4 linked regions of the Homo sapiens genome follow. The protein of the gene in region 3 interacts with the protein of the main gene of each other region in a pairwise test. Each region holds a gene or a part of one and is shown on either strand. Other genes may lie near its edges.

Region 1 (3,745 bases), on a different chromosome or scaffold from region 3:
CTTGCCTGCCAAACGCTTTCCTCTCAATTCCTGCTAGGAGCAGGCAGTCCCGATCCAGCAAGGTTCCCATCCTCCCTGACCCAGGCTGCCGGACACCCAGTCACTCTGCATCAGCACTCCGCAGGCCTGGCCCCGGACGCCCACAGCCACTCACCTCAACTCCTGGTTTAACACTTTGATCTTTCCGTTTTCCATTAGTGAGTAGTTGGCCTGGATGCAGCGTCCATTCTCAAAGGTTGTTGGGATCTTCTCAATTTCGTACCATCTTCCGAGATACTGCAGAGACAACAAGCAGAGCAAAACCCTGTGGTTCTCTGGGGACCTGCAACTTCTTCCCCATTGTCGTGCAGACGCAGAGCCCTGTCCTGGGGAAGCCAGACAAAATGGGCCTCATTGTTCCCAGTGGCAACTGGGCAAGAGATTGATTGCAATGAGAATCTGTGACTAGGATGGGATGTGCGGGCAGGGGGTGAATGCTGAGTAAAGGGCTCTTCTCAGGGCCCACTTCAGCCAAAATCGCTGTGACATTCTAGACTCTGTAAAAAAAGGGGATGATGGGAAATACCTTTCATCTGAAACAGTGCACAATTCTACAAGTCATCTTTGAATCCTGTGCAAAGTCAGATGTGTTCGCTGTGGGGAGCTAGGACTCCAGAGCGCACGGAACTTTCCTCATCTGACCCTGAGGAGGGATTTAGTCATCAAGGCTTTGGAGAGGTGGTGGGGATTTGAAAGGTCTGTATCATGCTTTCTCTAGGGGCCTGCGCTCAGTCCAGACTTCAGGTGTATACAGTTAGCTTTAAAGGAAGCTGCCACTGTGTGGGGAAGGTCGAGGGAACCAGGCCCTCCTAGGCTGCCTGGCACGCGTTGCAGGGAGACCATACCAGTTTACAACCTCTGCGGAGGGCAGTTTGGCAATATCTAGCAAAGCTAAAAATACATATTATACTCTTTGGCCCAGCAATTTCACTTCTGGGAATGCATCCTCCTGATATAAGAAATGATGTATGTGTAAAGTTATTCATTACAGTACCGTTTGTAATAATACAAGATAGGAAACAGCCTATGTGAGCATTAGTAGGGGGCTGGGTGAGTAAACGATGGCATATCCAGACAATGGAATTTTACTTCCTCTTTCAAAAGAGTGGTATGCAGTGATTTCTAATATTTAATGACAAAAGAGTCAGGTACAAAATAGTGTATCTATTAAGGCACCTTTTGTGTAAAAATGGAGAAAATGTTTATTACGTTGGTTTTCTGTTGCTGCTATAATAAATTAGCACAAGCTTCAAACAGCACAGATTTATTATCTTGCAGTTGTGTAAGTCAGAAGTCTGACAGGTCTCACTGGGCTGAACTCAAAGTGTTGGCTGTGTTTCCCTCTGGGAGCTCTAGGGGAGGATCAGTTTCCTTGCCTTTTCCAAGTTCTACAGGCCGCCTACATTCCTTGGCTTGAGGCTTCCTCTATTTTCAAAGCCAGCAAAAGGAAGTCAGATCCTTCTCACATTGCATCTCTCTGACTCTTATGCCATCATCAAACCTCTCTCTCTTATCACAGCTGGGAAAGATTCTCTGCTTTTAAGGATTTATGTGATTAGATTGAGTTCCCCTGGATAATCAAGGCTAATCTGGCCATCTCAAGGCTCATAACTTCGATCACATTTGCAAAAGCCCTTTTCCCATGCAAAGTAACATTCACAAGGTTAGGGCGTGGACACCTTTGGAAGCCACTCTTCTGCTTACCACAGTTATTAAGTATTTGCTTGTATATGTATATATTATCTGTAAAATTACATAATACATGGTTTTTACTAGTTGCTACTGGGGAGGGAAACTGAGGTACAGAGGTGGGAGGGAAACTTTATGTGGTGTATTCTTTTACACCTTTAGGATTTTGAACAATGTAAATATATTTATCTAGTTAAAATACTAATTAGAATTTTGTTTTTTTGAGATGGAGTCTCACTATGTCACCAGAGTGGAGTGCAGTAGTGCAATCTGGGCTCACTGCAACCTCTGCCTCCCGGGTGCAAGTGATTCTCCTGCTTCAGCCTCCCGAGTAGCTGGGATTACAGGCACGTGCCACCATGCCCGGCTAATTTTTGTATTTTTACTGGAGAAGGGGTTTCACCATGTTGGCCAGGATGGTCTCAATCTCCTGACCTAGTGATCCCCCTGCCTCGGCCTCCCAAAGTGCTGGGATTACAGGCGTGAGCCACCGCGCCTGGCCTATTCTAGAAATTTAAAAACAAAAAGAGATGCGCTCACCTTCAGAGTCAGAACTTGAAAAGAGAGGATGCTGCACACAGGTGAGTATTGCTTCAGCCACGGCTTTCCGCTCAAATGTATGCCACATTCATGACCATAAAGTTCTACTCACTTATTAAAGCACAGCTTTCAATTAAAGCCACTGAACTTAACATTCATTTAAAGTACCAAAGAATAAGGTTAGAGGTTAACTGGTTTCATAGACATTCTCGGAAGAAGCTCCATTTTCTATGGTGCATTCAAATCTGTTCTATTTCTGTTAAAGTGAGTTTAGTGCCCCATAGTAAAAACCAAGGAAGCATGATTTTTCAGAAAAGAGGAAACTCAGAGCTTCCTTATGATCTCATATTATTTTTGCAAAGGCTTCTTAATCTTTTCAGATCTCTGGTCAGTATTGAAAAATAATCCTAGAAAAGAAGAGGTAAAACTCTATCTGTTTGCAGATGACATATAAAATATCCTAAGAAATCTAAAACAGAGACAAAACCAAAAACTATTGGATCTAATGAGTTAAGCAAGGTTACAAGATACAAGATTAATATTCAAAAATCAAATATATTTCTCAGCCAGACGCAGTGGCTCATGCCTGTAATCCCAGGACTTTGGGAGGCCGAGGCGGGTGGATCACTTGAGGTCAGGAGTTCAAGACCAGCATAGCCAACATGGCGAGGCCCCATCTCTATAAAAAATTTAAAAATTAGCCGGGCATGGTGGCACGCAACTGTAATACCAGCTACTCGGGAGGCTGAGGCAGGATAATCTCTTGAACCTGGGAGGCAGAGGTTGCAGTGAGCTGAGATGGTGCCACTACACTCCAGCCTGGGTGACAGAGCAAGACTCTGTCACACACACACAAAAATATATACATATATAAACATATTTCTCTACTTGCAATGAACAATTTGCAGATGAAATTAAGAAAATTCCATTTAAAAGGCCGGGCACGGTGGCTTGCTCACACCTGTAATCCTAGCACTATGGGAGGCCGAGGCGGATGGATTGCCTGAGCTCAGGAGTTCGAGACCAGCCTGGGCAACATGGTGAAACCCCGTCTTTACTAAAATACAAAAAAACTTTGCTGGGTGTGGTGGCGTGTACCTGTAGTCCCAGCTACTTGGGAGGCTGAGGCAGGAGAATTGCTTGAACCCGGGAGGCGGAGGTTGCAGTGAGCCAAGATGGTGATGCTGCACTCCACCCTGGGTGACAAAGTGAGACTCCGTCTCAAAAAAAAAAAGAAAAGAAAAGAAAAAGAAGAAAATTCCATTTACAATAACATCAAAAGAATAAAATATTTGGGAATAAATTTAACCAAAGAAACATAAAACTTATACTCTGAAAACTACAAAGTATTGTTGAAAGAAATTAAAGATGACCTAATTCAATGGAAAGATACACTATGTTGACAAGTTAGAAGACTTAATATTGTTAAGATGGCAGTACTCCCCAAATTGATCTTCAGATTTAATGCAATCTGTAT
Region 2 (3,745 bases), on a different chromosome or scaffold from region 3:
AGCTGGCTGAGGTTGGCATAAGTCCCCATGCAGAGAAGAGACTCTCATCTTAAAAGAAATCACTATGAGGCCAGGGGAACACATACTGTAGGGTGGCTTAGGCTAGGAAAACAGAGAATGGGAGAGAAAGAAAGATGTAGAATTGAGAGCACGTCTTAGCTGAGGTAGAACAGAGATCCTCCCATTGGAAGGCCCATGGCCATGGCAGAGTGGTGAAACCCACAGGGGATTACAAACTTGGGCCCTGGGAGTCAGGCCATCTGGGTTCAGAATTCTTGCTCTTTCAGTTGCCAACTATGTCACTTTAGACAAGTCATTTTACCTTTCTGTCTCATTTTTTTTCCTTTCTCAAATGACCAGAGTGATAATGCCTATTTCATAGATTTATGAGGATTAAGTAAAATGATAGATGTATTATTACTGTGCATATTGGATTGCCTGGGCACATAGTAAGGGGTTAATACATGTTGGTTGTTATAATAATGATAATTCATATTATTTTGCTTTTTGAGGTTGTACTCACAAAGTCTTGTTGTGTTGCTGCTGTGATACAAGATGCCACTTCAAAGGCATATACTATAAACATCAGAATGAAATACTGGAAGGGAAATAAATGAGATAAAAGAATTACATTTACCCGTCAAAGAGCGACTTGCCCAAATAATTATGTTTTTTCAGCAAATTTATCATATAATCATGTAATCACTCATGTAGTTATTCAACAAACCCTCATTGACCAGTGGCTTGGATTGAGGCTTGGTGCTAGTCAGCTCAATTCTCTCCTTTTCTCCAGAGAACAAATAGCCATTGAATACAGACCTTCCTCAGTCCAGTTTCCTGAGTTTCTATTTTAACTGGGAAAAACAAGTACAAGAGAATGAACTGGTGTGTATGTGTGCACACACACATGTGAGCATTTACATGCTCATTTACATGTGTGCATTTACATGCATGTGCATGCTCAGTGAGTGGCAAGAGAGTCTTAGTGTATCACATACAGTATAGGGCCTCATAAATCCCCTTTAATTTTGGAATTTTGGAGAAATTTTCTTTACAATTTGCTGAAAATTTAGAATCACGGAGTTCAGAAAAAGATGAACTGGATAATGTTGAACATCTAGGGTCCTTCCTAACAAGCATCCAGTCTCATCAGAGGAGAGGCAGGCTTCAAGTGCACAGCATTTGTGGGTGTTCTTTCACACGCACCCACACTCAAAGTACATTGGTTCAGTTGAGTGAAATGGCATTTGCTGTGTGTGGTAGTGGTGGTGTGTGTGCGTGAGCATGGGCACATGGGTGCGTGTGCACATGATACCTCCACATGACAGTGATGCTATTTCTGGCTGGAAAATATCCGAACAGCAAATGACCTCTGAATCTGGGATGGGGACTGTTTGCAAGAGTTCCAGCTTTGCCTTCCCCAGGCTTGCACACACTCTTGGGAGAAGGGGCACTGTGGTCAGTGTCAGCAGGGTAGGCAGGGAAAACTGTCCTCCTCTTTGGGTATGGGAGGCTCTCCGAGCAGGACCCTCTGTTGCCCTCACTACTCAGCCCAGAATAAAGCTCTGGCTACAGTCAACAGCAGGAGCACCTTCAGAGGCCCCAGAACATTTTTTTCCTGTGTTAGCTGCTGCCTTGCTCCTTGCCAAGAGCTTTGCTGGCTCCTGGTAAAGACGCTCCAGAAAGGAGGTATGCAGTGAGGTGTTTCCTCCTTTAGCCCCTTTGCCTCCCCAGCTCAGTTCTCCTGGTTGTCAGGCATGCACATGGCTGGCCCAAAGTGAGGCTGGGATGCAAGTGAATTTGTCTTTAGGAACACCTGTGTCTCCTCTCCCTTTTTCCTGTATTCCTTTCCCCACCCACCAAAAGTGGGTACTTTTGCCCTGGAACTTACGCACACTAAGGAACCAGAGAATGTAAATGTTCTGTAATCCATTGGAACCAGGACAGTGGTTAGTTAAAAGGAAGAGTAAACTAACAAGCACCTTACATTGCTGGACTCATTCTATAAAGGGGGAACTGAGGTCCTGCAGCATTTGAATAAAAGGGTTATTTCAGGGGTGGGGGATTGGAGGCGTGTTCCATAATAGTGTGAAACTGCTGCCCTAAGTATTAGGGCAGACAGTAGGGGTCCACGTCTGAAACAGGTTTCTCAGCTCTGCTGCCTGCAAATTTGCTTTCATCTGCAAAGGCAGGGCATGGTCTTGCTGTCTATGGTTTGGGGCAGAAGCCTCTCCTTGATGTACAGAGTTAAAGCCCCCACAGGCAGGTGTGAGCTGAAGGCTCACTCTACAGTGGTGCTTATCAAGGTTTTCTGGGGTCCCTGAAAAGCAGATTGGATGATAATGTGGGGAGTATAGGCTATGATACAGAATCATCAACCTTGAGCTCAAAAATCTTTGAAAGCTTATACTTTCTTTTAAAAATGTATGCATATTTTATATTTTATATCCTAATATATTAATGCCTAATTAATATCAAAATGTTTTAAACAAGTTATTGCCAAGAGAAAAAAATCTAATGAATGAATTCTCACTGTGTCTCTCCTTTGGCCTATATAGCTCCTAGCTGTACCTACTGGGTGTATGCAGACACCAGCTGTAGAGGCACAATATGGAAAATACTCATTAGGTCACCCCCAGGTGTCTCCCCTTTGGCTTCTCTGTACTGGAGCCTTCTGGGCTTGCAATAGTGGAGGGCATCTTTGCCTCCATGTGGACCATTTCACTGCAGGGAAAGTCTTCCCCTCCTCACCCCTTATCTGGTACTTCCTGCTCCCCCACTGAAAGCCAAAGCATTGCTCAGTGAAGAAGAAAGAATCCATTACAATTGGCTCAGGGAGACAACTCCAGAGAATTTTGAGGTCTTACCGCCAGAAGAATTTTCCTGCTGGACTTCATGATGCCTACAATGCCTAGAACAGACAGGCAGAAGAGGCAGATGCCCACAAATATGCCGATCCAGGCAGCCCCATAGATGTCATCGTTGTCGGTGGCTTCAAGCAGTGGGTAGAGGCTGTGTTGGTCAGATACAAAGAAGATGCACTCCGCAGTCAGGGCAATGCCGCAACACTGGGGGCAAATGAAAGGTGGGCTCCATCAGGAGTGCAGCTTTGGGAAAGGGGGTGGAGGGTGGGGAAGGTAAGAGTGACTGGCTCCCTTTCCTGCACAGGCTTTATGCAACTAATCTAAACTCCCCATTGCCAGGAAATCAAACAACTACTTCCATCCTACTAACTGGTTGCATACATCCCTTCACATGTTATTCTGTCTATTTAGTAACAGACCCACACAATTTCAGACCATCCACAATGTCCTTGGGGCATGAATCACTCAAACAATGCTTTCTGGTATGAGAATGATCTCCCCCTGCCCCCATGTCATGACCCACATTTCTGGGTTGTAATATTTGAGCTGGTCCTGGTCATATTTATCAATGACAGCTGAGAGGAACCTTGCTGCTTATCTTTGCCAACACCCACATTTTATAGATGAGGAATCTCAGCCTTGAAAGGTGATGGCCAGAGTCATATGGGGAGTCAGAGGGAGAGCTGGGCCAAGAGCTCTGGACTCCAAAACAAATGTTCTTCTATGCCACCAGACCCACACAGTATGGCCTCTGTATTATTCTTACACCCTGGTACTGGCCTCTGTATGAGAAGAACAAGATGCAAGCATCTGTCCCAAAAAACCTTAACAGCAGAGTCCCATGGAAATCAAACCAAGGTGACATAGAAAAGAAATAGTGA
Region 3 (3,988 bases):
CATCCTCTCTACAAAAAATATACAAAAAGAATTAGCCGGGCACGGTGGCAGTTGCCTGTAATCCCAGCTACTCGAGAGGCGGAGGCAGGAGAATCACTTGAATCCAGGAGACGCAGGTTGCAGTGAGCCAAGATCGTGACACTGCACTGTAGCCTGGAAGACAGAGGGCGACTCTGTCTCAATAAACAAAAGAACAAACAAAAAATAGATTTCATGCACAGATGCTTCCCAATGGATCATTCATTTATAGATCCACTTGTGCATTCATTTTCTGCCCTCCCATTTAACCATCTGCAATATCAGTGTCCCAAGGGCAGAAGCCAAATGCATCTTGTTCACCGTTTGTGGAAGGCAGGAGAATGCTGTCCCACCCCAAAATGTCCCTGTCCTAGCCTCCATAGCTTGTGAATATGTTATTTTACATGGAAAGGAGGAATGAAGATTGTAGATGGAATTGCGGTTGCTAATCAGCTGAACTTAAAACAAGGGTATCCTGGATGATTTCCAGGAGATTATGAGGGATTTTCATCTTGGTGAACCCAATAGAATCCCCAAGTTTTCAAAAGATAAGGAAGAAGGGAGAGCAGCATTCAGAGAAAGAGGTGTGGTAAGGAAGAAGGCACTGAGTGATGCCATGTGAGATGTGACCAGTCTTTGTGGGCTTTGAGGAAGGAGGAAGGGGAACAGGAGCCAAGGAACTGGGAGCCTTTAGAAGCTGGGATAAGTGAGAAGCAGATTCTTGCCTGGAATCCTCAGAGGGAAGGCAGCCTTGCTGTCACCTTGATTTTAGCCCAGTAAGATGCACTTCCTACTTTGAGCTACAGCACTGTAAGATAATTAAAAAACCGTTTTGTTTTCACCCACGAATCTTGTGGAAATTTGTTATGGCAACAATAGGAAAAGGTTCCGCACTGCACAGCCTGAGCATGGGGCCGTGGCTGAATGAGTCAGTGAGTCGAAGTGTGCGTGCATGAGCTCCGTTCTCTGTTACGGCAAGGCTGTTGCTCTGCTGAGTCAGCCAGGGTTGCTTCATGACCAACAGTAATTCATTCCTTGGCAAGTGGAACTTCTCTAAAACACCTCGCCCTCATCAGATGTTCCCTTCCCTTCCCTCTCTCAAGCCCCCAGGAATTTATCCTCCAGTTAGGAATGCAGGCAGAACAAACATTGCATTTTTCCTGAGAAGGATGTCAGATTGGCAATCATTCTTCTAGCTTGTAGGAGGTCTCAGCTCCATAAAATGAGAGATTAAGAGATTTCACTGAGCCCTAGGTTGGGCCCAGATCCCTTTCGCTGTTGGAGTATCTGGAGTTCGGAGATGGTAGAAGACAGGCGTACAATGTCAGAGCTGCGAGATGCTGAGTCAATGCCTGCATCGAAGGTTTCTACCTCCCCAGGTTTCCAAAAGCGGATATAAGAGGGTTCTGTACTCACCGGTTTCGGAGCTTGGTTCAGTGGGTGAAGGCCAACTATTTGAAGGGTTTCCTAGAACACGAGACAGGAGAGAGGTGAGGAAATGAGGGTGTCTGTCCTCTACTCAATGGAAATCTTTGAGGTTGGTTCATGGCCAACACTCTGTTATCTAATATTGGGCCCTGGGAGTCCTGGGATCCTTTTTTCCGTAATTTTTGTATGTGACGCCCACTGTCTTGAGACTTCAAGGTATAAAGAGAAAACAGGAGCATCACACTACCTGATCTCAAAATATGTTACAGAGCTGTAGTAAGCAAAACAGCATCACATTGGCATAAAGAAAGGCACGTAGAACAATGGAGCAGAATGAAGAACACAGATATAATCCATGCATTTACCTCCAATGTTTTTTTCTTTTTTCTTTTGAGATGGAGTCTCGCTCTGTCACCCAGGCTGGAGTGCAGAGGTGCAATCTCGGTTCACTGCCACCACAGCCTCCTGGGTTCAATCAATTCTCTGGCCTCAAACTCCTGAGTAGTGGTATTACAGGTGCTGACCACCATGCTCAGCTAATTTTTATATTTTTAGTGGAGACAATGTTTCATCACGTCGGCCAGACTAATCTTGAACTCCTGGCCTCAGGTGATCCACCCGCCTTGGGCTCCCAAAGTGCTGAAATTGCAGGTGTCAGCCACCATGCCCAGCCCATCCAATGGACTTTGACAAAGGTGCCAAGAACTCACAATCAGGAAAGGACAGTCTTTTCAATAAACAGTGCAGGGAAACCTGGACATCTACATGCAGAGGAATGAAACTGCACCTCTACCTGTCACTATACACAAAACTCAAATGAAAATGGATTAAAGATGTGAGTCTAAGGCCTGAACCTATGAAACACGTAGAAGAAAATATTGGGGAAATGCTCCAGGACATTTGTCTGAAGGAAGACATTTTGTTTTAAACCTTCAAAACACAAGTAATCGAAGCAAAAATAGACCATTGGGATTACCTCAAACTAAGCAACTTCTGCACCGCTAAAAATAAACCAACAAAGTGAAGAGACAACCCACAGATTGGGAGCAAATATGTGCAAACTATGCATCTGAGATGGGATTAATAACTAGAAATATAAGAAGCTCAAACAACTCAATAAAACAAACGATTTAATTGAAAAAGGAGCAAAACACATGAAATTTCCCCACATACTAAAAAGTGCTCAGTTTCACTCATCATCAGAGAAACACAAATTAAAATCAAAGTGAGTTTTCATCTCACCCCATTAAAATGGATTTTAGGCCGGGCGTGGTGGCTCACGTCTGTCATCCTAGACCTTTGAGAGCCTGAGGTGGGTGAACCTCATAAGGTCGGGAGTTTGAGACCAGTCTGACCCACATGAAGAAACACTGTCTCTACTAAAAATACAAAATTTAGTTGGGCGTGGTGGCGTGTGCCTGTAATTCCAGCTACTCGGGAGGCTGAGGCAGGAGAATCGCTTGAACCTGGGAGGTGGAGGTTGTGGTGAGCCGAGATCGCACCACTGCACTCCAGCCTGGGTGACAAGAGCGAAACTCCATCTCAAAATAAAATGAAATAAAATAAAATGGCTTTTAGCTGCAAGACAGGCAAAGGAAATCCTGCCAAAGTGGTAGAGAAAGGAGAACCCTAATACCCTGTTGGTAGGAGTGTAAATTAGTACAGCCTTTACGGAGAAAAGTGTGGAAGTCCTTTAAAGAACTAAAAAGAGGTTGGGTGAGGTGGATCATGCCTGTAATCCCGGCACTTTGGGAGACCGAGGCGGGCACCTCAGTTGAGGTCATGAGTTTGAGAGCAGCCCAGCCAACATGGGGAAACCCCATCTATACTAAAAAAAACAAAAAGTAGCCAGGCATGGTGGCGTGCACCTGTAATCCCAGCTACTAGGGAGGCTGAGGCAGGAAAATCATTTGAACCCAGGAGGCGGAGGTTGCAATGAGCCAAGATGACTTCACTTGTACTCCAGCCTGGGCACAGAGGGAAACTGTCTCAAAAACAAAAACAAAACAACAAACGAATAACTAAAAAGAGAACTTTCATAGTATCCAGCAATTTCACTACTGGGTTTATATCCAAAGGAAAGTAAATCAATATATCGAAGTGATATCTGCACTCGTATGATTGGTGCAGCACTGTTCACAGTAGCCAAGATGTGGAGTCAACCTACCTGCCCATCAGTGGATGAATGGATAGAGAGAATGTAGTACATACGCACAGTGGAGACTACTCATCCATAGAAAGAATAACATCCTGATATTTGCAGCCACATGGATGGAACTGGAAGTCATTACAAAGATTCCCATTTCTCACCCATATACAGAGCTAAAAGGTGGATCTCATGAAGGTAGAGAGTAGAATGGTGGCTTCCAGAGGCCAGGAATAAAAGGGTGGAGGGTAAAAAAAAAAAAAAAAAAAAAAATATATATATATATATATATATATATATATATATGTTTATATATGTGTGTGTGTGTGTATATATATATATATATATATATATATAAATGTATTTATGACCACTAGACTTTACACTTAAAAATGG
Region 4 (4,201 bases), on a different chromosome or scaffold from region 3:
AGTCCTGGTTATCTCCTGAATATCAGCCTGCTTTCCACTGCTCCCTCCCTGTTGCCCCAAACTCTCTGCTCAGACCTTTGGGACAGCCGCCTTCCTGGTGTCACTCCCTCCCCACCATTCTGCACATCACAGCCAGAAGGACTGCCGCTGCCTCCACCCAAATGAGGAACAAAATCTTCCTGTGGTTGCAAGGCCCTCCACGATCTGCCCTTATTCTCAAGTTTCTTCCTGGCCCAGAATAACTGCTGCCTCCTGCAGGAAGTCATCTCAGCCCTGCTGCCACCAGCAGAAATGAAAACAGCTCAGGCTTGCTGGGTACTGTCCAGGGCCCGGGCACGGTGCCACACCCTCACCTGCATCCTGCTGGATCCTGACAACCATGTGTGAACTGGTGCTCAGGTTCTAGCTCCATTTCACAGAGGAGGAAACTAGGCACAGAAAGATTAAGTAACTTGCCCAGGTGACACAGTGCATGCAAAGCTGGGATTGATTGATCGTTTGATTTTTTTGAGACAAAATCTCACTCTGTCACCCAGACTGGAGTGCAGTGGCGCAATCTCGGCTCATTGCAACTTTTGCCTCCCGGGTTCAAGCTATTCTCCTGCCTCTGCCTCCCGAGTAGCTGAGATTACAGGCGCCCGCCACCATGCCCAGATATTTTTTGTATTTTTAATAGAGACGGGGTTTCACCATGTTGGCCAGGCTGGTCTTGAACTCCTGACCTCAGGTGATCCACCCATCTTGGCTTCCCAAAGTGCTGGGATTACAGGCGTGAGCCACTGCACCCAGCCAGAGCTGGGATTGAAACCCAGAGCCAGGGCACTTAGGTCCTTAGAGAGTCCTTGCTGCACCTGGGTGCCCATCACAGGCCTCCCGCCCCTATGGAGGGCCCCACCACACTCCTCCTGGCGCCCCCCTTTAAAGCTTCTTGGACAGCAGCTGGATCCTGTCCCCACTTCCCCCGCCAGGTGATCCAGTGGACAAAGGTCAGTGGCCCCAGAGGAGGTAAAGCAAAAGACCCAAGCCCTGGCACCCACCTGGCATTGACAGGTGTGCTTGGGTTGAAGAACTCCTGGGTCACCAGGGTGGCATACCACGAGACAGCAGTCAAAGTGCAGAGGCCTAAAGACAAAGCAGAGGGGCGCTCAGCTCTGCTCTGGCCCCCCGAGGCCACTGGGGCTGGGGCTGCCTGCCATGGTTGTGATTGTGCAGGAGTGAGGGGCACTCACCTGCCAGGATGAAGAGGGCTCCCCCGGCGATGGCAACACGGCCCTTGGCAATGGGGTTGCTGTCTCCCACCCGCGTACACTTCATGCCAACTACGCTGAGGACCATGGCCACGAAGCCCAGGAGCACGGCCACCACCATCAGGGCCCGCGCTGATTGGATGTGACCTAGGGTGGGCGGGATGACACTGAGTCGGGCTGGCGGGGATGGGGGTTGGGTCGGTGCCTGGGGTCGGTGGAAGGAGCCCAGCTTGAGAGGGGCTTGAGCAGGAGCTGGCCTGGGGGGTCAGACCACCTTCTGGCAGGTGCAGGATAGTGAGGAGTGACAGCCCGGGCATGAGGACAGGGTGTGGGGGTGAGAGTCCCCTTCACTGTCAACGCCATTCTCCACTCGCCCTTGCAGGCTTTTCCGGTAGTATGATTCACTCTGCTGTTGCTTTCTGGCCTGGGGACTCCCTCTTGGGCTTGGCCCATCCTCCCAAGCAGCTGAGGGCAGCTCCAGGGTCCCCTCAGGTTTGGTAGGTGGAAGAGCTGGGGGTATCTGAGGCCCAGCTCAACTCAGCCTGAGCCCCGCAGCAACCCCTCCCCAGCAGCCATTCAGACAACAGTCACTTTCCCCTCTGCCCATGGCAGCTGGAAGCTTGCCTCTTCACGGGTGCATGGGTCCATCCTGGGCCCTGGGGGGTGCTCAGGAGACCTGGGTCCCTCAGCGAGGCTAGATGACCTGCCTGAACTGACCTGCCTGAACTGGCACAATGGGGCTGGTTGAAGGCCGCTCTGCTCCCAGCTCCCATGGGGAGCAGATTGTCCCTGGGGGCTCCTGGGCAGATTGCAGGTGGATCACCTCCACCCCAGAGTTAGAACTTCGGCGGTGCCTGTCAGGCTCATCTCCACACCCCAGAAGGAGAGGGACTGCATGCAGACACACCTGTCTGTGCATGCATGTGCACGTGTGTGCGTGTGCATGCGTGTTTGCATGCATGTGCATGCACCCATATGCTGGCACACAGGCCTGGGAGCAGGACTAGGGAGCAGGTGTGCATCATACAGTGTGTGTCTGTCTACTGACTGTGGGGAGAAGTGGATGAAGGGTCTTAACTGAGTCTTTCAGAGTGCCACAGGTATTAGTATTCCCCTTTAGAGATGAGAACATCACAATGGGAAGAGGTTTGGTGACTAGTTCAAAGTTATAGTGACAGAGCAGGAATCTGGACCCACAGCCGCCAGACCCTAGAGCCCTCCCCTCCCACAGGGCAGCAGGCTGGCCTGGACCGTCAATGGGCACAGGGCAGTAGTGGGGGAATTGTAGAGCGGAGGCTGGAGGTTGGAGCCCAGCGCAGATAGCAGACTGTGAGGAAAACTTGCTCCAGACTCCCCTGCTGTTCCCACCTCCCATCTCCCACCCCGCCGGCCTGGGGCCTACCGTCCAGGGCGAGCAGCGAGTCGTAGAGCTTGCACTGCACTTGCCCAGTGCTCTGGGAGGCGCAGGACATCCAGAGCCCTTCATAGAGGCCCACGGCAGTGATGATGGCGTCGCCTGCGTAGGAAGACTGCTTCCACTGTGGCAGGGCTGTGCTAGCAATGATGCCCACCCAGCCACCCAGGGCCAAGAAGTAGCCCAGGAGCTGGAGGCCTGAGTTGGCCATGGCCCAGGAGAGAGGACCGAGGGTCCCAGGACTCAGAGCTGGGCCAGGGTGCCAGCAGGGGCTTTGGTCATGGCCAGGTGGGAGGAGCAGCTGGGCAGGGGGAGCAGCGAGAAGGAGGGTCAGAGGCAGAGAAGGAGAGGTGGTGCGGCGGCAGCGGCTGGAGCAAAGGCAGTGGCTCTGGACTCCAGAATGCAGGGGGAGGCCCAGGGGCTGGAAAAGGCCAGGGCCCGCCCACAGCAGCCGCCTAAGCCAGAGCAGGGTCCCCAGCAAAGCTCATGCCCAGCCCCCTGGGGGCGGAGGGCCGGCCCATGGCCCAGGTGGTGTCCCTGCCCCGCCCCGTTCCGCAGGGATAGGGAAGGGAGGGGCTGAGAGGAATGACCCAGCTGCCCTCTGGGCCTTTCCCCACAGGGAAACCCCTTTAGGAACCTGATTCGGGTGTCCTAAAATTCGGATAATCCCTAACCCAAACACCAGCCCTGGGAGGATGGACTTTGCTCTTGCAAGGCTGATCTAACCCTTGGGGTTTTCTGCCCTTTGACTTTAGGACAGAAGGGAAAGGAATGCCAGTTTGCAGCGGGTAAAACTAGAGTTAGATGTCAAGGATAACTTTTTGGCAGGGGCTCTGAAGCTGGATGTGGGGAGGCTGAGCTAGCGGTGGGGTGTTGGGAAGAGGGGTCATGGGTACCTGGGAGCTGTGTGTGCCAAAAATCAGGGAGGCCAGACCAGGAAATATGTACTGTGGGGTCTTTTTGAGATCTGAGGGGGACAGAAAAGGGGCCCTATCGAGGCTGGGCCAGCGCTGGCTGCCGGCCAGCAAGGGGCCTGGTGGGGAGCTGGGGAGACAGCCCCAACCTTCTGGCATCAGCCTGAAGGAAGGCGGATTGCTCAGCCCCTTAATCCCCTTGCTGGCTGGCTTAGTAGCTCCTGCTGGGACTGGAACACTGGGCCCTGGCCCCCAACTCTAGAGCAGCCTGGCGCGGAGCAGTGGCCTCTGCACATTCCCGGGGTTCAGGCTGCCCGCTCCGAGCACCCCCACCTCCCTCTTCTCTCTCCCAGTCTCTCTTGGTCTTCAGGAGTAGGGGAATGTTTAACTCTCTTCCACCTCATTAGCAATCCCCTCACGTTCAAGTGGGCCCCACTGCAGCGTGGGTGCAGAAGGAATGTCACAACCCTGCTTCCACTCCTGCCAGCCCCCCGCCGCCCCCTCCGTCCCCAACAGCCCACCCACCCTTCCTGGACTGCACTGGGGGAAGGCAGGGTCCTGCTGCAGACCCCTGCTGGCTTCCTCCCCCACAGCCCCAACCCCCCTCTGAAGGGACAAGTCCCCAG

The links. The genes of interacting proteins can lie anywhere in the genome.
Region 1: the proteins of KIR2DL3 (region 3) and APOD interact in binary tests that used the Homo sapiens proteins (3 or more experiments, as listed by UniProt).
Region 2: the proteins of KIR2DL3 (region 3) and UPK1B interact in binary tests that used the Homo sapiens proteins (3 or more experiments, as listed by UniProt).
Region 4: the proteins of KIR2DL3 (region 3) and CLDN19 interact in binary tests that used the Homo sapiens proteins (3 or more experiments, as listed by UniProt).

The regions. Positions count from the first base shown.
Region 1 is NC_000003.12:195,573,696-195,577,440, forward strand, and holds part of APOD (apolipoprotein D precursor), read right to left. Parts: intron 277-3,745; coding exon 155-276; intron 1-154. UniProt on the Homo sapiens protein: APOD occurs in the macromolecular complex with lecithin-cholesterol acyltransferase. It is probably involved in the transport and binding of bilin. Appears to be able to transport a variety of ligands in a number of different contexts.
Region 2 is NC_000003.12:119,187,098-119,190,842, reverse strand, and holds part of UPK1B (uroplakin-1b), read right to left. Parts: intron 3,069-3,745; coding exon 2,868-3,068; intron 599-2,867; coding exon 524-598; intron 1-523. UniProt on the Homo sapiens protein: Component of the asymmetric unit membrane (AUM); a highly specialized biomembrane elaborated by terminally differentiated urothelial cells.
Region 3 is NC_000019.10:54,744,832-54,748,819, reverse strand, and holds part of KIR2DL3 (killer cell immunoglobulin-like receptor 2DL3 precursor), read right to left. Parts: intron 1,486-3,988; coding exon 1,435-1,485; intron 1-1,434. UniProt on the Homo sapiens protein: Receptor on natural killer (NK) cells for HLA-C alleles (HLA-Cw1, HLA-Cw3 and HLA-Cw7). Inhibits the activity of NK cells thus preventing cell lysis.
Region 4 is NC_000001.11:42,737,192-42,741,392, forward strand, and holds the start of CLDN19 (claudin-19), read right to left. Parts: upstream 3,046-4,201; 5' UTR 2,873-3,045; coding exon 2,650-2,872; intron 1,395-2,649; coding exon 1,230-1,394; intron 1,123-1,229; coding exon 1,038-1,122; intron 1-1,037. UniProt on the Homo sapiens protein: Forms paracellular channels: coassembles with CLDN16 into tight junction strands with cation-selective channels through the strands, conveying epithelial permeability in a process known as paracellular tight junction permeability.